7 linked regions of the Homo sapiens genome follow. The protein of the gene in region 2 interacts with the protein of the main gene of each other region in a pairwise test. Each region holds a gene or a part of one and is shown on either strand. Other genes may lie near its edges.

Region 1 (3,500 bases), on a different chromosome or scaffold from region 2:
GGCTGGGCGCGGTGACTCACGCCAATATCCCAGCACTTTGGGAGGCCGAGGCGGGCAGATCACGAGGTCAAGAGATCGAGACCATCCCGGCCAACATGGTGAAACCCCATCTCTACTAAAAATACAAAAATTAGCTGGGTGTGGTGGTGCATGCCTGTAGTCCCAGCTACTTAGCAGGCTGAGCCAGTATAATCGCTTGAACCCAGGAGGCGGGGGTTGCAGTGAGCCGAGATTGCAGCACTGCACTCCAGCCTGGTGACAGAGCGAGACTCCATCTCAAATAATAATAATAATAATAATAATCTAAATTACTAAGGCTATGCTGTCCACTGGCAAGGTTTAACTCTGTGACTAAGTTTAAAAACCAAAGTAATTCCATTATATGTTATAGATAAAACATTGGTAGGTTTTGTTTTCTCATTTTATTAGCAAGTATGTGTTACATAGCGGGCAGTGTGCAAGATTCCAAGGAGACTATGATAAATAAGATAGGCACCAGCTCTGCCCTCAAGGACTAGTTGATACTAACACTGAGCAAATTATTTCCTCTTCCGAGTCTCACTCACCCACACTGTAAAAGGTTGGGAGAACATCTACTCTGTATTTTGCAAGAATCACTGGTACCAAAGGGGATGTATTCCAGGGTGTGATGACTGGACACACATAAGTTTGTATGTGTGTCAAGAATATTAATTTTCTTTATAGCCTTATATTTAATCAAATGAACTTGAAATTAAAACCCTCAAAATTCCTGTATTCATTTTCCAGAAAAAAACATTTCTCCTAAGACAAGGTCAGATTGACCATGAAGTGCTATACTGATATTATTCTTCAAGACATTTCTCAAGATTAGGATGCTGAGGTCCAATTGTAACTCTAACGAAATTCTATTTTACAGGTTTCCCTCTTGGATTATAAAAGCATTTTAAAGATATAAAATATATTTACAAATGAACTGTGGCTATAAAAAGGTTAACAATGATATATTAATCACCATACCTACACCCATAAGTTCCACAGTCAGACTGGTCACTCCATTTTCTGAGCCCAAAACCGATCGCCATTCCAGAAAATATGATGCTACTAAAGTCGTCTCACCAAATATGTCTGTTTTGATTAGCACCATATGAATTGGATCACTTATTGATAACATTGTTGTTGAATCAGCCATTCTAGTTCCATCACCTAGCAATATAATCCAAACGAAATTATACCACACTACATATTCAGTTAGGCCAACATAAAAGAATACTTTTATTAAACAGTAAATAATAAGCTTATATAAAACCAAAGAGAACAATTTGCTAATGTCTCAGAAAGCATGCAAAAAACTGGAAATACAAGTACAGTCCTATTTCTATCACTAACTTTTCAGAAGACTGGCAAATTGTGATGAGTTATCCAGTAACTTACAGCATATCAGTGCTTTCTGATTCATAAGATAAGTCTGTTCTTTAAAAGTACTTAACTAAAGTATATGCTACTACAATAAAAAGCCTTCAAGTATGTCAATATTAATCCCCAAACTACCTCAAGAAATCCCTTTAACCTCCAGAAATTATCACTGTATAATTGACATACAACTGAAAAATACAGCACATCGAATCTAGCAATTTATCCTATTAATTGCCTTATTAAGGTAACATCTTTCAAAGGGAAAAAAATAAATTTTAGTAATGTTTCAGTCATCTTTAAATCTAAAATTGTGAAGACATTCTGAAACTTTGCTTAGTTTACAAATATAAAGATTTCCATACTGACAATTACAAAATACAAAATACCTTTACTGAAAGAAACATAGTGTAAAACAATTACAGGAATCAAGTAGCATAAAATTTAGTTATGAGAATTACATGCTTTATTGGAGAAATAAGAAAAAAAAGAAAAAATTAAAATGACAGTTATATGTTCACATCTAAATTTGACTTTTTATTTTATTTATATTTATTTGTAAGTATTTATAAAAATTTATTAGAAGTTTTTATAAATAATTTATAAATATTTATTCATTTATTTATTTATTTAAACAGAGTCTCACTCTGTTGCCCAGGCTGGAGTGCAATGGGGTGATCTCGGCTCATTACACGCGCCTGCCACCATGCCCGGCTAGAAATTTTGTATTTCTAGTAGAGACAGGGTTTCGACATGTTGGCTAGGCTGGTCTCAAACTCCTGACCTCAGGTGACCCACCTGCCTTGGCCTCCCAAAGTGCTGGGATTACAGGCATGAGCCACCACACCCAGCCTATTTTTTATTTTTTGTAGAGACAATGTCTCACTTTGCCCAGACTTGTCTTGAACTCCTGGCTTCAAATGATTCTCTCACCTAGACCTCCCAAAGTGTTGGGATTTCAGCTGTGAGTCACCGTGCTCAGCCTAAACTTCGACTTTTAAAAGTTACATAACATCATCAATCTGGTTATATTTTATAAATGAGAAGGACCATGTCTCATTTTCCACTATATCATCCCAGCACCTGCCTAGCATAACACTATGCACATAATAGGTATTTAAGTGTGTATTACTAAAGAATCAACAATGAAAACAGTCAAAAAATAATATCCAGGGAAAATGAATAGCAAACAGAATATTGCAAGAAGGTGGATAGTAGTTTAAATTGAAAAGAGCAGTGGGAAACAAAATAGAGATTCCTCCATTATAAATCTCTCCTTACAGAAAAAGTCATTATTATTGTTTCACAATAAAACATAACAAAGATTTACTCAATTAAATGACAATTTATTACTGTTTCTTACCCAAGCTTTCTCTGTGTACTTCAAGTAAAAAGCCATCATGAAAATCTGGTTCACAGGCACATGGAACAGGTTTAGAACGAAAACGTTGGTTTCGATAATGTAAACATAAAGTAAACGTTGAACAAACTTGTCCAGGTAAAGGCTCAGGTTCTTGCAGATGTTCCAAGAAAGCTTTTCCACCCAAAACCTGAAGGTAAAGATACCTCCGTGTTGGATCAATATTAGCTGTAAAGTGTAGCAATATATATGAGGAAACTGCCAAATAACTTAAAAGAATGTGATCAAGACATTAGGAAATAAAAACTTGACAGATAAAAACCCAATACCAAAGACTAAAAAAAAAGCAAAAGAGTAACAAATTTATTACTGTATATGCCAGAATCATTTGCACTCTGGGGAGAAGATACACAAAATATGATATTCTTTTCTGAGTTTACATCCAGGCTACTTTCTCCCAGCTGGAAAAGGCATCAGAGCCAATATGTAGTATACTTTTGCTTTTTAACTGCTTATCCAACATTCCTCCACCTTCACAAACCAACTCATATAATTATCAATTCAGCAAGTGTATTTGTCAATTATATTAATATTTAAAAGCAAGGCTGTACAGTTTTTATAAAACATATTATTAAAACACAAGAAACTGGTGATGCTGTTTTTGCTTCTACCGTGCTATACATTAACTCTTCTGATATACTTCATGCAAAACAATCTGTTTTAGCCAACCATAAAATTTTAAGTATTT
Region 2 (3,500 bases):
AGACGTGCCTTTCACCTTCCACAGTGATTGTGAGGCCTCCCCAGCTACATGGAACTGTAAGTCCATTAAACCTCTTTGTTTTGTAAACTGCCCAATCTTGGGTATGTCTTTATCAGCAGCATGAAAACAGACTAGTACACTCTCTCTCACATTTTCCTTGGCTCTCCTCTTATAAGGACACTTGTCTTGGGATTTAGGATCCACCCTAAATCCAGGGTGATCTCATCTTGAGATCCTTTACTTTAATTACATCTGCAAAGATCTATTTCCAAATAAGCTCACATTCTGAGGTTCTAGGTGGACATAAATTTCGGGGGATAAATATTCAGACCACTATAGTGACATATACACAACTTACAATAAAAATATAAATGTACCATCGAGTCAGTTGTCTGAGAGGTAGCAGACGACCTCTTTAAAGGCTCACACTAGCTGTGAAATCAGGCTCCTCGCTGTGTGGCCTGCTGTCAGAGTGAACTTCAGCAAATACCACAGGAGCCCCTGACAGCATCTTCTCTGACACAGGGAAAGATAAAAAGCAGGAATATAAAAACCTGTCACCCATCTATTTCCATATTCCTTCTATCTGAATATTTCTTTCTCCCCTGCCCCCATCTCTTTCCATATGTCAGTTTAGCAGGCACCTAAGGAAGGCAACAGTGCCACTCTCAATATAATATTTATGAGATGGTTAAAGAATAATAACTGTGGTATCTATTTTAATTTCCATTTTAATCTTTTGTCCTACTTTTGAAAAAAAAAGGTCTAAAAAAGTACTGTAATTCAAGCACAAATATAAGCATACATACTTAATACTTTTTTTTAAGACTTAGGGTCTCACTTGGTCCCCCAGGCTACAGTACAGTGGTGTAATCAGGACTCACTGCAGCCTCAAATTCCTGGGCTCAATCGATCCTCCTGCCTCAGCCTCCTGAGTTGCTAGGACTACAGGCATGCACCACCATGCTTGGCTGTTTTTTTTTAATTTTTTGTAGAGATGGGGGTCTCACTGTCTCTGCAGGATTATGCCCAGGCTTGTCTGGAACTCCTGGCCTCAAAAGGGATCCTCCTGCCTCGGCCTCCAAAAGCACTGAGATTACAAGTGTGAGCAAACACACTCAGCTGCATAATTAATACTCTGGAAGGAGCTTTCTTGTTATTACTGTTGTTCTTGGTTGGAGGGGTGTGGGAAGGGGAGCCGTGTTGGGGGAGTTTAGTGTTACACATGCTGAGTGCAAAGCACACCTGGGGAGGACGGGAGGCCTCAATGAGGATGTGGGGAGCATGTCCAGGGCTGACCTTGAGATGAAAAACCAAATTTAGAATTTTCTCTTCCTAAATATTTTGAGCCTCATATTTGTAGCCCTTCATAAAAAGCTTCTTCATAGCCCTCATATTAATGACACAACCAAACATGAGAGTTAAGAATTAAGGAGTTAGTAGTTAATATTTAAGGAATAGCCTGGGGGTCCTGCAGACCTGGGTTTGAATAAGACCTTGGGCAGGTTGCTTAACCACACCTAGCCTCAGTTTCCCCAGCTGTAAAATGGACAAATGTCTCTAGTTCATGTTATTGTGAGGATTACATGAGACACTCAGCAGTGTGCTTTGCTGTGGAATAACCCCTGACCATGTTAGTTATCAGAGTCTCACTAGGTCCTAGGAGGAGGCAGGAGATACCTGTATTCCCATATGATAGCCTCAAAGAAGTCAAAAGCACACACAGCCAGTGCTGCAGGGCTGGAGACATAAATGGAAATCAAACAACTGCAAATCCCTGTTAATTCTCAGTGTAATTAAATTCCTGGTAGAATAATAAGGTGTTTCATTGTTCTCCCAAACTATAATCCAACCAGCAAATTATGTTTGAGTTTTTTAAACCATCTGAACCATAAGAGAATTCATACCAATTCTGAGTATAAAATTTCTATTATGTTGGGGAGGTAACTGTCCCCAAGTCACAGGCAGAGCCAATGAAGCCCAACAGGCACTGATGTTTAGAATCCGCAACAAAAAGGCTAAGACTCAGTAGAATGTAATCTAAATCATGAACAGGCCAAATCTGCCCCTCAGCCTGTGCTTGAAAATAAAGTTTTATTGGAACACAGCCATGCTCATTCATTTGTGTATAGCTGTGACAAAGATGGCATGGCCCATAAAGCCTAAACCATTTACTATGTTGCACTTTACAGAAAATGTTTGCCAACCTCTGCTGTAACAGAAGACATATAATGGGGCAGCATTGAGGAGAACCTGAAAATATCTTAAAATGCCAAATTGCATTCCTAGCGTTCTTGTTACTTTCAGTCTCATGAAATAGGGGTGCTTTATTTTCCATGATGTAGCATGGAAGGTAAATCCCCCAAGTGACATGAGCAAGAGGATCTTTTTTTTTTTGAGATGGAGTCTCGCTCTGTCGCCCAGGCTGGAGTGCTGGAGTGCAGTGTCGCAATCTCGGCTCACTGCAAGCTCCACCTCCCAGGTTCACGCCGTTCTCCTGCCTCAGCCTCCCGAGTAGCTGGGACTGCAGGCGCCCGCCACCACGCCCAGCTAATTTTTTTTTTTGTATTTTTAGTAGACACGGGGTTTCACCGTGTTAGCCAGGATGGTCTCGATCTCCTGACCTCGTGATCCGCCCGCCTTGGCCTCCCAAAGTGCTGGGATTACAGGCATGAGCCACCGTGCCTGCCCTGGAGGATCTTAAAGTTAGGAGGCATTTCTCCCAAGAAAGCCACTGGAGGATCCTGACACTCAGCCACAGTAGTCTCTGTGGCCTCAATAGCTTTTTCTCCCCCATGATGAAATTCCGCACGTCTACAGACAGTAAGGACTCACTCGGATTTTCTCTTCTTCCAGGGTTGGTGCTGGCCTCGATCCTTGCTCCAGTTCCTCCTTTTCTGCCACTTTCTTCCAGATGTCTTTAGTCTGCTGGTTATCCGGAGCCTGCAGATCATGGTACTGTGATTTTGTTTTCAAGCTATTGGTGAATTCTTCAGAGTGAGTTTTTCTGAAGAGAGGCAAAAGTGAAATTCTCAAAAAACATTCTTCAACAGGAAGAGCCTTTCCAAAGCATATGTCGACATTCAAATTATGTGAAAAACAGTAACTGACACCACTTACTGAGTGCTTCTAACATGCTGGGCCCTTTGCTAGGTGTGTAAAGACGTTAACTTCATCCTCATCACAACCCTGTGAGGAAGGCATTGTCATCCTCACTTTGTTATAAGAGCTCCAAGAAATTTTGTAATTCATCCAAGACCACATAGTGGTACAGCCAAGATCTGAACCCTGGTCTGCTCAACTCCTGGTTTAGAAGTTAACCTATTAGAACCACACCGTCTGCTTCCAATCGATGATTAAATAATTCCTTTATCTTCATATGTCCATGGATAGTTTTAAAGTTACAGGCACTAGTGGGCAGCATCCCAGCCCTTGAAAGTCCAATGCACCATCCACTGTGCCACAGAGTCTGCTTTGCATCCCTAGCCCTTGGGAACTGA
Region 3 (2,461 bases), on a different chromosome or scaffold from region 2:
TGCACACCTGTAGTCCCAGCTACTTGGGAGGCTAAGCTGGGAGGATTGTCTAAGCCCAGGAGGTTGAGGCTGCAATAAGCCATCGTTATGCCACTGCACTCTGTAGCTTAGGCTACAGAACGAGACCCTGTCTCAAAAAAAGAAGAAAGAAAATTAGATCTCTATCTCAGAGATCTAACAGGTAGAAAAGCATCTTTCTATCTATAGACTTCAAGGGAGGCAGATAATTATAAGATGCCCAGATAAGCCTTCCTGACACCAAGTCCAGGCTTGTGAAGAGGGGATGTATAATGTGATCATTGGAGATTCCTCAGTTTGGAGACTTATCACAGCCTGAGAGCCAGTCTGTTGCCAGGAGGAGGCTGCAGGGAGCCAAGATAAGGCTGGAGACAAGATTTATGGATTTGTAGAATCTAAGACTACCCCTACAGCCTTTCTTCATAGCATCTTAACCCTATCTAGCAGCAAAGACACGAGTACAGAAAAAGGGCACTCTGAGAGCATTTTCCAACAAAACACTTTATTCATTTTTTTTCTATATAGCTCCTTCCAAAGGTAATTCCCCCTGCAGCCTAGCCAGTCTGACCTCTCTCTCCATGCTTGCCACTTTTGCAGAACAACAAAACAACATTGGGATGAGATTCAACATTGGGATTCTCCATTGGTGGGCAGCAGGGGTGGAATCTACTCTGGGGCACCCACCTTTAGGGACTGGCAAGTGGGGTCAGATGGTCCCGCTGCTCCCTACTGGCTACGACGTCGTTTCTTCCTTCTGCCCGTGACAAAACTGTCACACCGCCTTTTACGAGGCTGTGAGGGTCGAACTACTCCCAGAGCTAGGGGTTTCTCCCTGGGGACCCCAAGTTGAGCTCCTGAGTGGGGTGTCTTTTCAGTAGGGGCTGGACCTCCAGCTAGAGCTCGCTTCCCAGACTTGGCAACAGGATATGGAAGTTTGCTGGGGCCTTTTGCTCCAGCAGGGAGCAGGTGGGATGCTCTCTGGCTGCCCTGACCTCCTGAGGCATGGTGAGGACTGAGGGGATGCTCCCTTGGTGAGAGGCTAAGTTTAGAGGCCAAGAGGTAAGCAAAGTTGGAGAGTTCCTCATCCTCTTCCTCTGCTTCCTTTTTCTTTTTCTCCTTTCCTTTGGCCCTGTCTGCTGACCTGTGTGTTTTACTAACAGAAGTTTCTCTCGGAACTATGGCATTCCTGGTTCCCCTTCTAGGCAAAGTGCTTCCAAGGCCCTGGTGAGAAGATGTTGCTTTGGGAGTCCCAGTTGTGTAAGACTCCTGACTCTCTTGTAAAGGAGCAAGGTTTTTAGGCTTGGACAGATCAGGATCCACCCTGCCTTCTCCTTGGGGGTCATAAGAATGAACATTCAGTGGGCAGGTGTCCTCGCTGACCCTTAGTTGGAGGCCACAGTCATCTTTAACATCTAGTATGTTGACAGGTTCTATGGTTTCCAACAGAGGAGAAAAGGAATTGCCTCTGCTCCCTGCCTCTTGACTGGCTTCAGGCAAGGAGGAGGCATCCTCAGTCCCCATGATAAGGAGATTGCCTTGGCATGTGGGTGGAAGGGTTTCTTTGGAAGACCCCAGTGTGGAATCACCACTTTCTAGCAATGGGAAGCAACCTTCTGCCCACAGATCACTGGGATGCCCTACGGTTTCACAGCTCTGTTCTTGATTTTCTTTGGACCTCAAGGGTGGGCTGTTGGCCCTCAAAGGTCCTGGCAAGCTGCAATAGTTTCTCTTTTCTAGGGCAGCTGCCGCAACTGTGCCTCCACAGGGAATCACACTGCTCTCCGTATCCCCAGGTACTAGGGTTTCTCCAGGACCCAGGGAAATGTTGCCCCTGGAGCCCAGTCCCTGGCAGCCTTCCTGATACTCAGTTACACACTTCTCAACTTGGAAGCTCTCTATGACCTCCTCTATTTGTACAGGCAGCTCCAAGCCTACAGCATCCATCTCACTGCTCAGCCAAACTCCTGGGCTGAGACAGACATCGTCCCTCTCCCCAGCTGCTCTAGGGGAAGGATTCTGATCATAACTCTGAGCCATGGGGGTACCTCTGTCATCTCCCCACATGGCTCCTGAAGAGCCTTCCCAGGGCACTGCTAAAGGCTCCTTCCCTTGAGGAAGCACTCCACGACCCCCTGTTTGTTGTCCTTTCTGCAATCCCAGGACTTGCTTTTCTAACCCTTGTCCTTGCAGAGGAGCCAGCTCTGCAAGTCCAGCATCCAAACTGGGAGTGCTCTCAGGCTGGAAGCCTCCCTGCCAACAAAGGGGCAGAGCCTCTGAAGTCCTATCAGCCACCAGGCAGTGCCCAGGAGGCCCAGCGCCTCCTAGATGGCCATCCTGATGTAGAGATACCTGGTTTATAACCTTCCCAGACCCTCTCCTCTCCACACCCAAGGGTCCCGGAGTTCCCTGTGGAGCTGCAAGTTCTGGCTGCAGGTCCCAGCTG
Region 4 (3,500 bases), on a different chromosome or scaffold from region 2:
CATAATGAGCTGTTTTAGTACTAACTAACCATCATCTAAGAATTCATAACTCAGTACCTGTAAAGTTTTCTGCTCCTTTTGAAGATCTTTTATTTTATTCTGTTGGTGGCAAGCCCTACTTAGTGATTCATCCTCCAATTCACCAATTTTGGATTTCACACTTTCCATAATTTGTTCCAAGTCATTAGCTCGTTGTTCTTGATTGGCTGCTCGGCTTTGCTCTAGCTGAAGTTCATTTCTAAGTTAATAGACATACAATTTCTTCCCTTAGTATTAAAAATAAATCGAATTACCAAGCATATCCATATAAGAATGTATTGCCTTTCTAAAGTTTCTTTGCATTCTCTTTATCCAAAATGCTTGGAACCAGAAGTGATTCATATTTCAGATTTTTTCAGATTTTGGAATATTTGCATCATACTTACTAGTTAAGCATCTCAAATCTGAAAATCCAAAATCCAAAATGCTCCAATAAGCATTTCCTTTAAGCATCATGTTGGTGCTCAAAAAGTTTCAATTTTTGGAGCCTTTCAGATTTTCAGATTTGAGATGCTCATCCTGCAACAGAAACTAATAGAAGAAATATAGGGTACCATTAAACATCTATGCTAAGCTATTACCAAAAGATTTACCTATTAAAATTTTACCTACAAAAATATTTTTTAGTTTAATATTTAATCAAAATGGGAAATTAAATTTCAAGATTTTTTTCAAGGCAGTTATTTTTAGAACGCATACAAACAATTCAAAAGAAATCTTTTCCATTTTCTCACCTAAGCTGTTGATTAGTTTCTATAAGCTCCTGTATCATGTTCTGTTGACATGATGTTTCTTCCACCAACAATTTCAAATTCTGTCTCATCCTTTGTGATGACTGTTTGTCAAAAATGATGAGATCTACATTTAAAAAGTATATAATACAGATAGTAAAAATAAAAGGCAAAAAAAATTTTTTAAGGAAAAATAAACTTTTTACCTTAAGCATCAAGAATAGGATCTAATTACCTTTGAGATCTGTTCTTTTGACTAGAGACAAAGGTTTTAAGCCATGCATCATCAATAGCACATTTATGCTTTCCCATTCTGCTTCTTCCTGCTACAATTACAGAAAGAGAAGAAAGGGTTAACTTTAGATATAAAGTGAAGAAATTCTCTCATATATAATTTCCTGCATTTTCAGAATAGAACTTTTTCTTCAAAAGTTTTAAGTATAAATGTTTATGCATATATAATATCCAAAAAACACATTTATTGTTTCTAGCAAAATTAGTAATAGACTAGAAGTATGTAAATAAGCACAAATTGTTGCATTATACAGAATACTCATATGTAGGCCTCAATGGACAAAACCAACAACAACAACAAAAACACCTTGTAATTTCAGTGAATCAAATAAATCTAAGGTTTTAGATTTAACTAAGCCAAACCAAGCCCTGCTCAGAATAAACAGCTGTAAACTAGGCTATAATAACTGGATAGTAAAGAAAAGAAAAGGTGAGTCACTTCTAAGTATCACTTTCTTTTTTCTTTCTTTTTGAGACAGAGTCTTGCTCTGTCACCTAGGCTGGAGTGCAGCGGTACGATCTCGGCTCACTGCAAGCTCTGCCTCCCAGGTTCACACCATTCTCCTGCCTCAGCCTCCCGAGTAGCTGGGACTACAGGCGCCCGCCACCACGCCCGGCTAATTTTTTGTATTTTTAGTAGAGATGGGGTTTCACCGTGTTAGCCAGGTTGGTCTGGATCTCCTGACCTGGTGATCCACCCGCCCTGGCCTCCCAAAGTGCTGAGATTACAGGCGTGAGCCACCGCCCCAGCCCCTAAGTATCACTTTCATAATGACTAGGGTCACAAAAAAATCAAAACATACCTGACTAGTTGGAGCCAATATTTCAGACAGCTCCTTGTCAAATGGACAAGGTCTAACTATAAAAAGGAGCCCGTCCATCTGGATAACTGACTCTAACAGAATCACCCTGAAAGACACTCTCAAAGTCAAACAAGTCTTTCTTTTTGACTGTTGACTTCTTCCTCCTTTTTTTTACATCTCCTCCCACTCATAACTTTTCTCTCATTTATGCTTTAGTCTTTCTGATCACAGAGTTTAACTACGTGGTAGACACAACTAAAATTAACATTGATGTTGTTTTAGGAGCCAAAAGCTCTGAGTTAGTGTCTCAGAACTTCTACTGTAACTCATAAAAACAAAATGCTCTATACATAATAAAGTCACATATTTTGAATGATTAACTTATACATATTGTTTCCTGATACCTCTTACATTTTAAGATAAAGTAATTGTAAATTCTGAAAATAGTTGGGAATGGCATTTTCCAAAGTACATGCTACAGAACACTAGTCTAATGAAATGTTCATCAAACTAGTGTTAAGTATGTATGAAATGCTGTATACTAAATCCTCCCTTTGGAGACTAATATTGTGAAGTCTTAGAGTAATTAAACCATTTCATAGTCTTTAACCCAGCATTTCCTAAAATTATTTGAGAAAGAATCCTTTTAAAGTCAAATTTTCCTGTTTGTAGATGTAGCATTCTTTGGCACATATTTTGAGAAGCAGTGTCTTAAAATATTTTAAGTTTACCTGTTTTTCAGTCATGAGTCTGTCTGATGGTTGACTGGAATCCTGGGGTTTAGGGGCTACCGGAAACATAGTTACTTTTGTAGAATCAAAAGAAACAGAAATTGGCAATTAAAAAATTTGAGTTGCCTAAATGAAAAAAGACAAAAAGTGCAAAAGGAGTTAAAGAAAAGTATATTTAAAAGAATCCACTACTCTTGCAGGGCAATTCAGGTCATTCCTGCGTCAAAACTTTGTGACTTCTTAGATAGCTGATTGTAAGACTCATTTGAATAAACCCTATCTTATAATGTTCTCCTCTGGAAATAAAGCATTCTGGGATTTTACACATATACCACACACACACATACACTCTGTCCTGTCTAACCCCCCACCACAGAATGCATAACTGGTACCCAAGAACAGAGGAAAGAATGGAGTAGAAGGAGCATTTGAAGAGCTAATGGCTAAGAAAAATTTGAGAATCAATGAAAGACATAAATCCACACATTCTAGAAACCCAACATATTGCAACTGGGATACAGTAAAAAAAAAAAAGAAAAAAGAAAAAAAAAGTCAGTCATACCTAGACACTAATATCTTCAATGTGCTGAAAGAAAATAATTGCTTATCTAAAATTCCAAAGCCAGTGAAAACATTCATTAACGAATAATAAAGGCAAAAGTAATATATTTTCAAACACATGACACAAAATAAATCTGAGAGTGTTCATTGCATCTGCTCTGTAAAAAAATTCTAAAGAAGCTGCTTCATGCAGAAGACTCCCTGATGGAAAAGCAGAGATGTAGAAAAAAATAGAGCAAAAAAATGGGCGAGTTTAAACACAGACTACATAATGAGATCTTGTGAAGTATAAAATGTACAATTAAAATGCACAGTAACAGAAATATATTAGCTGAGAGTAG
Region 5 (3,500 bases), on a different chromosome or scaffold from region 2:
GCTCCTGCTCCAGCTGCCGCTGTGCCTCCTCGGCCCGCCGCTTTTCCTCCAGCCGACGGTTCTCCTCCTCCTTCTGCAGGGAGAGCCACTGCCCGCTCAGCCCTATGCTGCCACTTCAGCCTAATCCCCTGCCCAGGACTGAGTTTTAGGCACATGGCCAAAGACGGGCACCAGAGCCAGTCGATCATTAGCCTTGTGGCTTAACTTACCCGAGCCTCAGTGTGACCATCTGTAATGGGCACCAAGGAGAGTGGATGCTGCATGAGCTCACTTGTGAGGAAAGATGAGCCACAGCAAGCAGAACACTCCCACGTGCCCAGCATGCCCCGGGGCAGCACTCACCTCTGCTTTGGCCCAGAAGCTGTCTTTACCAACCCTTTTAATCTCAGACACGGCATTGGTCTTCTGGTACACAGAGCCCTGTAGGGGACAGCACTCATTAGAGACCTGGACCCAGGTGGAAGGCCAGGCCCACAGGCACCAAAGGAGAGAATACGCTAAACTTGCGACAGCACAGGTGAGTGCTGCTAGGACTGGACCCAGCAGAGGCAGCAGAGCACTGCCCAGTGACCCTCAAGGAGACACACACCAAGATGACCTGAAAGAAGCCCAGGACACTGCCCCAAGGGGGATGCTCAATCCCAGACAACACTAGAGGGGTCTCTGGTGGTCTCTCGCCCTCATGGATGGGGGCCAGGGCAAGAAAGGCCCCCATACCCCACCTGCAGACTCCTAGACATTGGGCAGTTCTGAGGCAGGCCTCTGACCAGGGGCACTCAGACAGCTGACTACCACAAGAGCATCCAAGGAATCACGTCCAACCACACGCATGCGGACGCAGCTCCCAGCCATCAGCTCCACACAGCACTGGGGCCACAGGCCCACAGGTATCTCCCGTGACTCCAAGGGGCCTGCTCTGGTTTCAGGCTCCGCCTTGATGCCTCCTTTAGTTCCTCCACGGTGGCTACCTCCAGGGGCAGCCCAAGATGTTCCAGTGCCATGACCTTGAGGGCAGCCAGACTATCATAGCCATGCATGCTGCAGAGCCTCCACTCTGACCACACAGGCTGGGCTCCAGAGGAAGGCTCCAGAACAGCTAGTCCAACCCCTAGGCAAGGTCAGAGGGCTATTCCTGCTCATCTGGTCAGTGGGCAATCACCACAGCTCAGGGGTTACCATCTGCAGAAACTAAGCAGGCATGGGCCCAGCCAGCCCGGGTGCTGGGAAGTGCATATTCCTGGCCCCCTGCCTCAGGCCCTGAGCAACAAAAGGGCTGGCGATGGGCAAGCAGCACTCACCACTGGGGCCTGGGGTCCCACGTCCTGGAAGCGGCCACTCTCCTTGTGAAAGCTGTAGTTGGCACCTGAAGCCTTGGCCACCTTCTCCATGATGCACTCAGGCTCCACATCCTCCTCGGCCCGTGCGTTGATGGTCACATGGGCCCCCTGCAGCAGGAGCAGCACTTGAAAGAAGGGCTTTGCAAGCCCAGGAGATGGGCCAAACTCCTGTCAGTCCATACAGCACGGGCCACTACTATACCACACAGGACTGGAATCAGGAAACTAGAAGGCACCTGTCTGGCTGCTGAAAACTGAGGCACGAGTTCCCCTCAAGGGCTCAAACAAACCAACTTGGAGCAAACCCCTCATTCTTGTCCCAGTTCACGTGAGACCCTTGACCTCCACTGTGCTATCCAGTGGTTCCTTCTGTAGCTGTTCCCTGCTGTGTATCAATAGACAGCCCAGGCATAATTTGCATCAAAGGCCTTCCTTCTAATCAATGAAAACTAATTTTAAATGCCATCTGGAAGCCACAAAAGACCCTGAATAGCTAAAGCAATCTGAAGCAAAAAGTACAAAGCTGGAGGCTTCATGCTACCTGATTTCAAATTAAACTACAAAACTACAGTAAGCAAAACAGCATGGTACAGGCATAAACACAGACACAACAATGGAAACTAACAGAGCACTCACACACACAGCCAACTCATTTTTAACAAAGGTGACAGGAACATACACTGGGGAAAGGACGGTCTCCTTCATAAACAGGGCTAGGAAAATTGGATATCCATATGCAGAAGAATGAAACTAAATCTTCATCTTTTACCATATTAAAAAAAAACTCAAAATGGGTTAAAAAGACTTAAATGTAAGACCTGAAACTATGAAACTACTCAAAGAAAACACTGGGTAGATGCCCCTGGACATTGATCTGGGCAAAGATTTTTTTTGGGTTAAGACCTCAAAAGCCCAGGCAACAAAAGCAAAAATCAACCAATTGGACTACATCAAGCTAAAAGGCTTCTGCACAGCAAATGAAACAATCAACAAAGTAAACAGACAACCTACAGAATGGGAGAAAATATCTTCAAACTATCCATCTGACAAGGAATTAGTGACCAGAATATATAAGGAACTCAAACAACTCAGTAGCAAAAAAATAATAATCTGATTTTAAAATGGGCAAAAGACCTTAACAGATATTTCTCGAAAGATGATATACGCATGGCTAACTACATACAAAAAAATGCTCAACATCACTAACCATCATCAGGGAAATGCAAACCAAAACCATAACGGGCTATCATCTCACCACAGTTAGAATGGCTATTATAAAAAACATAAAAAATAAATGCTAGCAAGGATGTGGAGAAAGGGAAATTCTTATACACTGTTGGTAGGAATGTAAAGTAGTACAGCCATTATAAAAACAGTATGGTTTTTTGGGTTTTTTTCTGAGACAGAGTCTTACTCTGTTGCCCAGGCTGGAGTGCAGTGGACAATCTCGGCTCACTGCAACCTCCACCTCCCAGGTTCAAGAGATTCTCTGCCTCAGCTTCCTGAGTAGCTGGGATTACAGGTGCCCGCCACCACACCTGGCTAATTGTTGTATTTTTTTAGTAGAGACGGGGTTTCACCATGTTGGCCAGGCTGGTCTTGAACTCCTGACCTCAGGTAATCTGTTCACCTTGGCCTCCCAAACTGCTGGGATTACAGGCGTGAGCCATCGCGCCTAGACAACAGTATGGTTTTTAAAACAGTATTTTAGTCCTACTAAAAGCAGAACTACCATATGATCTAGCAATCCAGCTGCTGGGGATATATCCAACTCTGAAGTTCAGCGCTATTAACAATAGCCAAGATACGGAATCAACCAAAACGTCCATCAATGGATGAAAGGGTAAAGAAAATTTAGTATATAAACATGAGGGAATATTATTCAGCCATAAAACAGAATGGCATCCTGTCATTTGCAGCAACATGGATGGAACTGGAGGTCATGATGTTAAGGGAAATAAGCCAGGCACAGAAGACAAGTATTGCATGTTCTCACTCATGTGGGAGCTAAAAAAGTGGGTATCATGGAGGGAGAGAGTAGAATGCTGGTTACCAGGGGTTGGGAAGGGCATGGGGGAGAGAAAATGAAGAGAAGTTGCTTAACAGGTACAAAAGTACAGTTAAATAGAAGGAATAAATTCTAGTATTCAATAGTACAGAAGG
Region 6 (3,500 bases), on a different chromosome or scaffold from region 2:
ACTTCCAGATATCCCCACCCCAACCCCTCTCACTCACATCCCCCGTACCTGAACGAGCAACAGGGGAATGGGGGTGAAGGGGGAGGAAGTGGAGAATCCACCCAAGATCAGCAAAACAGCAGACCACAGGGTATGCAGCCAAATGCTGTCGTCAATGACAACAGAAAGCTGGATTTCTTGACTCCATTCATCTGACCCAGAAACTAGAGGATAAAATGATGGGCACGTGGTTTATGACAGAAGCAAGGAAAAAAAAAACAAACTCGCTACTTATCCCCCCTGTTATTTACTCCACTTCCTATAAGCAATCTTCAAAACGCTCTGTTCCATAGACATGATCCTCTTCAAGTCTAAGTGACTCCAAGAGGCAGCAAAGTACCAGGGGGTAAGGACCTAAATTTGAATCCAGCTCTGCCTCTTACTATCTATGTGACCCTAGAAAAGAGACTTGACATCTGAGCCTTAGTATTGTTCCATGTAAAAGAAGGACATTACCAGCTGGACACGGTGGCTCATACCTGTAATCCAGCACTTTGGGAGGCCGAAGCAGGCCGATCACCTGAGGTCGGGAGTTCGAGACCATCCTGACCAACACGGTGAAAGCCCGTCTCTACTAAAAATTCAAAATTAGCCAGGTATGGTGGTGCGTGCCTGTAATCCGAGCTACTCGGGAGGCTGAGGCAGGAGAATCACCTTAACCCGGGATGCAGAGGTTGCGGTGAGCAGAGATCACACCATTGCACTCCAGCCTGGGCAAGGAGAGCGAAACTTCACATCCAAAAAAAAAAGAAGGACATTACCTATCTCAAAGGGCTGTTGTAATGAAAATGCAACTCATGGAAAGTGCTTAGTACTGAACCAAACATGTCATAAGAGCTCAATGAATGGTTATTTCATAGAGAAGGAAACGGAAGCCGGAGGGAAGCCAATGCTAGCCTGAAGCGGCATTTAGTTCAGTGTGAGCAGAGATGGGATAAGAATGAGACTTCACAGGCTGCAAGACCAAGACTCTTATACCCATCCTTTCCCCTTGCATTTAAATCAATTCCCCCTAAATGCATGTGCAGGATCAGAGAATGAGAAGGGAGACAGAGCAAGGAGATTAACTTTCACCAGGAATAAGGTTCAGAACCTGCAGCTGCTCTTGTGGCTTAAGCAGCCCCCAGACCCTCCCATTCTCCCAAGCTGCAGAAAGGGACAGGCTGTCTTCACAGGGACCACTGCATGGGAACCCGAGGACCTGAAACCTAGTAACATGGTCAGATGCAGGGCCCAAGAGACCCTCATCCCACTCCTTTTCTCCTTCTCTCCATTTTATCAGTCACTCCAAGCAAAGGAGAACAGACCAAACAGCCGAAAAAACAAACAGGGGCCCAAAAGCAAAAAACAAAGGGAAGGGCCTATTAAGAAGCTGCGCCCATGAGTGTCCCCTGGTGCTTTTTGGAAAGATCCTAGGCCCCCTCACTACACTTTAAAAAACCTGCTCCCCTCCCCGCCAGAACTTTAGAAGAAGTGTTCTGGTTTTTTCACAAATTGCCAAGACAGGGGAGCCAGGCCCCTAACTTGGGAGCAGCCAGGGTGTGAAGGAGGGGTGTGAGGGCCTCAAGTCCTACATCAGGTGCGGGGCTGGAGCGGGGCCTACCTGTGCTGCTCCACAGCCTCGTTATCAGGAAGCTCGACCCCACACACGCTGCACTGCTCTCCGATGGTCCGGCTCTCTGACTTCATGCCCACAGCCAGCTCCCCCAGCTTGCTGAACAGCTCCCTCTGGATGAAGCCCTGGGGCAGCAGCCCCCCATAGGTGCTGAAGTCCATGGAGACAGCCAGGGCAGGCTGCACGTGGAGGCCAGAGGTCACGGAAGACGGCATGCTCAATACAGCGTCAGCCTTGTGGTTGGGCAACACGGAGTAGATGCCCAGATGCTTCTCAGGCGGGGGTGCTGGGTGCTCAGGTCGGCCAGTGGGGGCCTGGCCAGCCTCAGCTGGGGGTGGCACCTGCTCGGCACTCTCCTCTCGCCCATAGTGTAGCTCCCTAGCACTGGTGATGACGCTGCTTCGAGTCGGGGTCCCAGGCCCCTCTTTGCCTCTTTCCTCAACCTTGTCCCCCATCCCTCCTGAGATGCTGGACTCGGCTGCCCCAGGGCTGTCCTGGCTGGGCACCTCATCCACCTGCATCATCTCCGTCTTCACCTCAGCCACCCCAGGGTGCCGCCCACCCCCAGCCAGAGTTGGCTCCTCGGGCCCTGCAGGTGGCTGAAGAGTTCCCTGCAGGAGAGACTGTCCTATGGTCATCAAACTGTCCACTGCAGCCTTGGTGGGACTCATGGCTGAAAGACCAAATGAAGTGGAGACTGAAGGGCTCTGGTCCACCATGGGCCCAGGGAGGCTCTGTCCAGCCACACTGGCATACCCACTCTCCTCGCTGGAATGCTTCGAGATGAAGATGTTCTTGAGGTACCGAGCCTTGCGGTCCTCTTCTTCCTCGGCCCCGCCATCGGCCATGGTGGCCTCCGTGTCATTGTCGTCTGAGGCCTGGATGGTCTCCAGCATCTTCAGGCACTGTTCCTCCAGGTACTCGATCTCCAGGATCTCGGCCGCATACAGCAGGTCATCCAGGTCCTCCGCCTTGGCTTGCAGCGTGGCTGTATATGCATACTCCAGAATCTGCTGGAAGGTCTTTGGCGAGAGGAAGTCCAAAGTATAGTGTTGACTATTGCGGTGGAAGAGGATCTCAAACATCTTGCTGGTGCAGGCCAGCACCGTCCGGTGGGCGTGGAACTCCTGGCTGTCCACCATGATGACCACATCGCACAAAGTCCCGGCCAGCCGCATCTGGTTGGCCTTGCACAGTAGCCCCGTGGGGTGGCTAGGGTTCTGCAGCTGGATCATGCCCATTTTTGTCAGATCCATGGTGCTCCCCTCGGCTCAGGCATGAGGCTTTCTTTCCTTCTGGGCTCTGCGTGGCGGGGCTGGGTGGGCTTCCTGGGCCAATAGAGGAGGCTAGGAGAAAGAAGAGGGGAAGAAGCAAAAGAGATGAGAGAACAAAAGACAAATTCATCAGTGTCCCTAAAAGTAAGAATTCAACCACTACAACATGCCCCCTCCTCCCTGTTGCCAAGCCCTTAGCAAGAGGATCTTAGAGATTTTAATTGAAGTAGCTTCCTAGAAATCTACAAATCTGCCTTTCAAGCCAGGGATGCTGAGAGTAAAAAGAAGGTTCTGCCACAGCAGATGCCTAATTCACTACTCTATGACATCTGTTAGATGAAGTGAAATGAAAATTGTAGTGAAGTCCTATAAGTCCTCAGCTTTCTCTGTGTCTGAGAGTAGGGGCTCCCTAGGCAAGGCCAACATTCATTATGATGAAGTGCACTTACTTAAAATTAGCAAGACTTTAGCCCCTTCCTTGTCAGCTTCACGCCAGCCCCCTGGATGTCAAGCCTTATCTTTAAACAGTTTTTCCAAACTCTGCCTCACTACAGGAGCCCCAGAAGCAGAGT
Region 7 (3,500 bases), on a different chromosome or scaffold from region 2:
TCTGCCTCCAGGCACAGTAAGAGAGAGAACCTCCAGGTTGTCCAGAAGCCCGGCCAAATGCGCTACTCTCCTCACCTGCCTGGTCCGACGGCTGAGGTCTGGCCTGCTTGTTGTATTACCATCTCTTTTCCCAACAGGTCTCTGAGATCTGGCATGCATATTTGAACAATCACTATCAAGTCCTCTCACAGGCTCACATCCAACAAATGGATTTACTGGGCAAACTATTTGAGAATGACACTGGCTTGGGTAAGTGGCAGTTTTCCCTGAAGGGAGAGCAGTGACTTCATCTCACCCAATACACAGACCTTGTCCCTAAGAGGGAAAGCAGCTGTCCCTGTCATGAAGCACACCATTGCCACCTTCCCCATGTTGCTGATGGAGAAAACTGAGACACGGGGATCAAAGAGATTTTACCAGTGTTGGGAAGAATTCAGATCCCTATCATCACACATAGCCATTCGGGGGTTACTAAGGGACAGATTTAGAGGGAAAAAAAGACCACATCAAAGCCCCCTGTGATTTCTGCAGAGCATCCATTTCTATGTTATCCCTCCAGGGCAGCAGTCCCAATCTCTCCCTGGCACCAGGGACCCGTTTCATGGAAGACAATTTTTCCATGGACTGGGGGGCGTGGGAGGAATGGTTTCAGGAGAATTCAAGTGCATTACATTTATTGTGTACTATGTTTTTATTATTATTAATATATTGTAATATATAATGAAATAATTATACCATGCATCATAATGTAGAATCAGTGGGAGCCCTGAGCTTGTTTTCCTGCAACTAGATGGTCCCATCTGGGAGTGATGGGTGACAGTGACAGATCATCAGGCATTAGATTCTCATAAGGAGTGTACATCCTAGATCCTTTGCATGCACAGTTCACAATAGGGTTCACGCTCCTAAGAGAATCTGATGCTGCTGCTGAACTGACAGGAGGTGGAGCTCAGGTGGTAATGCAAGCAATGGGGAGTGGCTGTAAATACAGATGAAGCTTTACTCGCCCCTACCACCCCTGCTCACCACCTGCTGTGCAGCCCGATTCCTAACAGGCCACAAAACAGTTCTGGTCCATGGCCTGGGGGTTGGGGACTCTTGCTCCAGGACACGTAAGCCAAGGTAGACTCTACACAGAAGGTGCATTGCTGATTTCTTCTGGTGCCTTAACTTCATGCTTTACTGAACAGTGAGCTTCTCAGTGGCAGGGCCCAGTTGGATTAAACTGTATTCCCCGGGCCAGCAAAGGGCTAAGTGTTGAATAGTACCGTACAGCATCATGCCCTCAGAGACAATGAAAAGACACAGAGGATCTAGTTTCTGCTCAAAAGAGACATACAGTGCAGTTGGTGATATAGAACCTATAGGCAATAACAAAAGAACATTCCTGTGAGTACAAATTATGTTACAAGATGAGTCCCAGAATGAAGAGGTGAGGACAGCTGGGTGGTGTTGAAGAAGGAAGACTCTTTGGAGGAGAGGTTTTGAGCTAAAGTTTAAAAAATTAATAACTTTATTGAATTTTCTCTCATTATGTAAATAGTTCATGTTATAGCTGAAAACTTGGAAATCATAGATATCCAAAGATAGCCAACCTTAACATGATGGTGTATATCCTTTTCGTCTTTTTCTCTAAGCTTAGTACTTGTATAAGTGCTTTTAAATGCATGTAGTGACTTCTCAGTAAATGATGACTAAAGTAGGACCAAAAACTACTGGGGAAAATAGTAAACAGACTCTCAGAGGGAAGCATGAAGGTTGTTGCTTACGCATCTATGGCCTAGACGAGAAGAGTTAAGCTGCTGCAGCTGCAAGAAGTCCCTTCCCCCAGTTCTCTCCTCTCAGCTGTAGAGTGGAATCTGAGTTGGACCCAAGGAATCTGCCTGTGGCAGATTATCTGTGTTTGTAAGCCCAAGAGATCTAGAGTTCAGGACTCCGAAAGAGAGAAACCTTAGCAACTTTGGGACCTGTGGGAGTGAGCCTATTTTTAGGCTACTCTGATAATGGCATGCTAAGCAAAGCTGGAAAGCGGTCTGAAACTCCTGCTTCGGAGCTTCCTGCTTTGCACCTGGAGGGAGTCCTCTAGGTAAAAAACTTGCTGTAATTGGTGCTATTTCCACCAGTGCCCTTGGGAAGGCTTCAGCAGACCAGGCGCTTTAACAGCTGAGTGCTTTTGATGAGGGCAGACTCAGTTGCCAAGAGCCTGTTTTTTCTTTCTTCCCCTTCCAATGCAGATGAAGCCCAAGAAGCAGAAGCCATTCGCATCCTGACTTCAATCTTGAACATTCGAGAATCTACATCTGACAAAGCCCCCCAAAAAACCATCTTTGTTCTGAAGATCCTGGTCATGTTTTACTACCTGATGATGAATTCTTCAAAGGCAAGTTTCCCTAAAAAAGCAACACGTCTAAAATGAAGGTAGAAATTCAACTAGTTGAACTCAAAATTTGTGTTTTGCCCAATTCCAATAGCTTTTGCCCTCAGAGCAAGCCCTCACTCCAAAGAGGTTCAGATGCTCACGATGTTTCTCCTGTGTTGAGTCTAGCCTGCATAATGGAAATTGGATTGTCTTCTTCCCCCGAGGGTTCCCAGTCTTGCATAGATAAAGAGAGTCTGAGGCAGTGCTGGGAAGCCTGCAGGGCAGGAAGGCTCTGGGGAGCCTTGGATGGATGAAGTAGCCGCTCTAACTCCACTCAGTTACTGAGTTCCCTGTTGCTGCGGGGATTCAGGCAGAAATGCATTGCCATGAAATGATTCAAAAAGTAACTTTTTGAGTACTTTTACCTACCAGTTATTGGCCTAAACCCTTTACATAATTATCATACTTAATGCTTACACCAACATTAATGAGGTAGCTATTTTATTATCTCTACTTTACAAACAAGGAAACTGAGGCACCGAGAGGGTCAATTCTTTGCCCAATGTCTTACAGACAGCAAGTAGCATATCTCAGGTTTATTGACTTATTGGTTGATTCTCTCATTCATTCAAACATTTATTGAAAATCTACCATTTGTAAAGCACTAATCTAGGGACTGGGGATACAGTGGTGATCCATACGTTTCCTATCTCTATGGCACTGGTGTTTTTTGGAGGAGTGGAAATAAACATATGTATGTGTAATATAATTTCAGATAGTAGAAACTGTTATAAAGAAAACTAGCCAGGCACAGTGTCTCATGACTGTATTCCCAGTACTTTGGGAGGCTGAGGAGGGATGATTGCTTATGTCCCGGAGTTCAAGACCAGCCTGGGCAACATAATGAGACCCACTCTCTACTAAAAATAAAAATAAAAAGATCAGCCGGGCTAGAGGTGTGCACATGTAGTCCCAGCCACTCGGGAGGCTGAGATAAGAGGATTACTTGAGCCCAGGAGATTGAGGCTGCAGTGAGCCGTGCTTGTGCCTCTGCACTCTAGCCTGGGTGACAGAGCAAGATCCTGTCTCAAAAAAAAAAAAAAGAAAAAGAAAAAGAAAAGAAGAAGAAGAAGAAGAAAAA

Evidence for each region.
Region 1: the proteins of SH2D4A (region 2) and CEP76 interact in binary tests that used the Homo sapiens proteins (3 or more experiments, as listed by UniProt).
Region 3: the proteins of SH2D4A (region 2) and NUTM1 interact in binary tests that used the Homo sapiens proteins (3 or more experiments, as listed by UniProt).
Region 4: the proteins of SH2D4A (region 2) and CEP70 interact in binary tests that used the Homo sapiens proteins (3 or more experiments, as listed by UniProt).
Region 5: the proteins of SH2D4A (region 2) and DBNL interact in binary tests that used the Homo sapiens proteins (3 or more experiments, as listed by UniProt).
Region 6: the proteins of SH2D4A (region 2) and ZBTB16 interact in binary tests that used the Homo sapiens proteins (3 or more experiments, as listed by UniProt).
Region 7: the proteins of SH2D4A (region 2) and ZMYND12 interact in binary tests that used the Homo sapiens proteins (3 or more experiments, as listed by UniProt).

What each region holds. Positions count from the first base shown.
Region 1 is NC_000018.10:12,696,224-12,699,723, forward strand, and holds part of CEP76 (centrosomal protein of 76 kDa), read right to left. Parts: intron 2,981-3,500; coding exon 2,756-2,980; intron 1,186-2,755; coding exon 1,000-1,185; intron 1-999. UniProt on the Homo sapiens protein: Centrosomal protein involved in regulation of centriole duplication. Required to limit centriole duplication to once per cell cycle by preventing centriole reduplication.
Region 2 is NC_000008.11:19,334,193-19,337,692, reverse strand, and holds part of SH2D4A (SH2 domain-containing protein 4A), read right to left. Parts: intron 3,008-3,500; coding exon 2,836-3,007; intron 1-2,835. UniProt on the Homo sapiens protein: Inhibits estrogen-induced cell proliferation by competing with PLCG for binding to ESR1, blocking the effect of estrogen on PLCG and repressing estrogen-induced proliferation. May play a role in T-cell development and function.
Region 3 is NC_000015.10:34,355,775-34,358,235, reverse strand, and holds the end of NUTM1 (NUT family member 1), read right to left. Parts: coding exon 745-2,461; 3' UTR 501-744; downstream 1-500. UniProt on the Homo sapiens protein: Plays a role in the regulation of proliferation. Regulates TERT expression by modulating SP1 binding to TERT promoter binding sites.
Region 4 is NC_000003.12:138,570,261-138,573,760, forward strand, and holds part of CEP70 (centrosomal protein of 70 kDa), read right to left. Parts: intron 2,725-3,500; exon of another isoform or gene 2,673-2,724; 5' UTR 2,668-2,672; coding exon 2,599-2,667; intron 1,097-2,598; coding exon 1,006-1,096; intron 898-1,005; coding exon 774-897; intron 267-773; exon of another isoform or gene 239-266; coding exon 58-238; intron 1-57.
Region 5 is NC_000007.14:44,054,702-44,058,201, reverse strand, and holds part of DBNL (drebrin-like protein), read right to left. Parts: intron 1,446-3,500; coding exon 1,299-1,445; intron 421-1,298; coding exon 343-420; intron 74-342; coding exon 1-73. UniProt on the Homo sapiens protein: Adapter protein that binds F-actin and DNM1, and thereby plays a role in receptor-mediated endocytosis.
Region 6 is NC_000011.10:114,062,711-114,066,210, reverse strand, and holds part of ZBTB16 (zinc finger and BTB domain-containing protein 16), read right to left. Parts: intron 3,001-3,500; 5' UTR 2,911-3,000; coding exon 1,643-2,910; intron 1-1,642. UniProt on the Homo sapiens protein: Acts as a transcriptional repressor. Transcriptional repression may be mediated through recruitment of histone deacetylases to target promoters. May play a role in myeloid maturation and in the development and/or maintenance of other differentiated tissues.
Region 7 is NC_000001.11:42,432,023-42,435,522, reverse strand, and holds part of ZMYND12 (zinc finger MYND domain-containing protein 12), read left to right. Parts: intron 1-137; coding exon 138-249; intron 250-2,234; coding exon 2,235-2,380; intron 2,381-3,500. UniProt on the Homo sapiens protein: Required for sperm flagellum function and male fertility.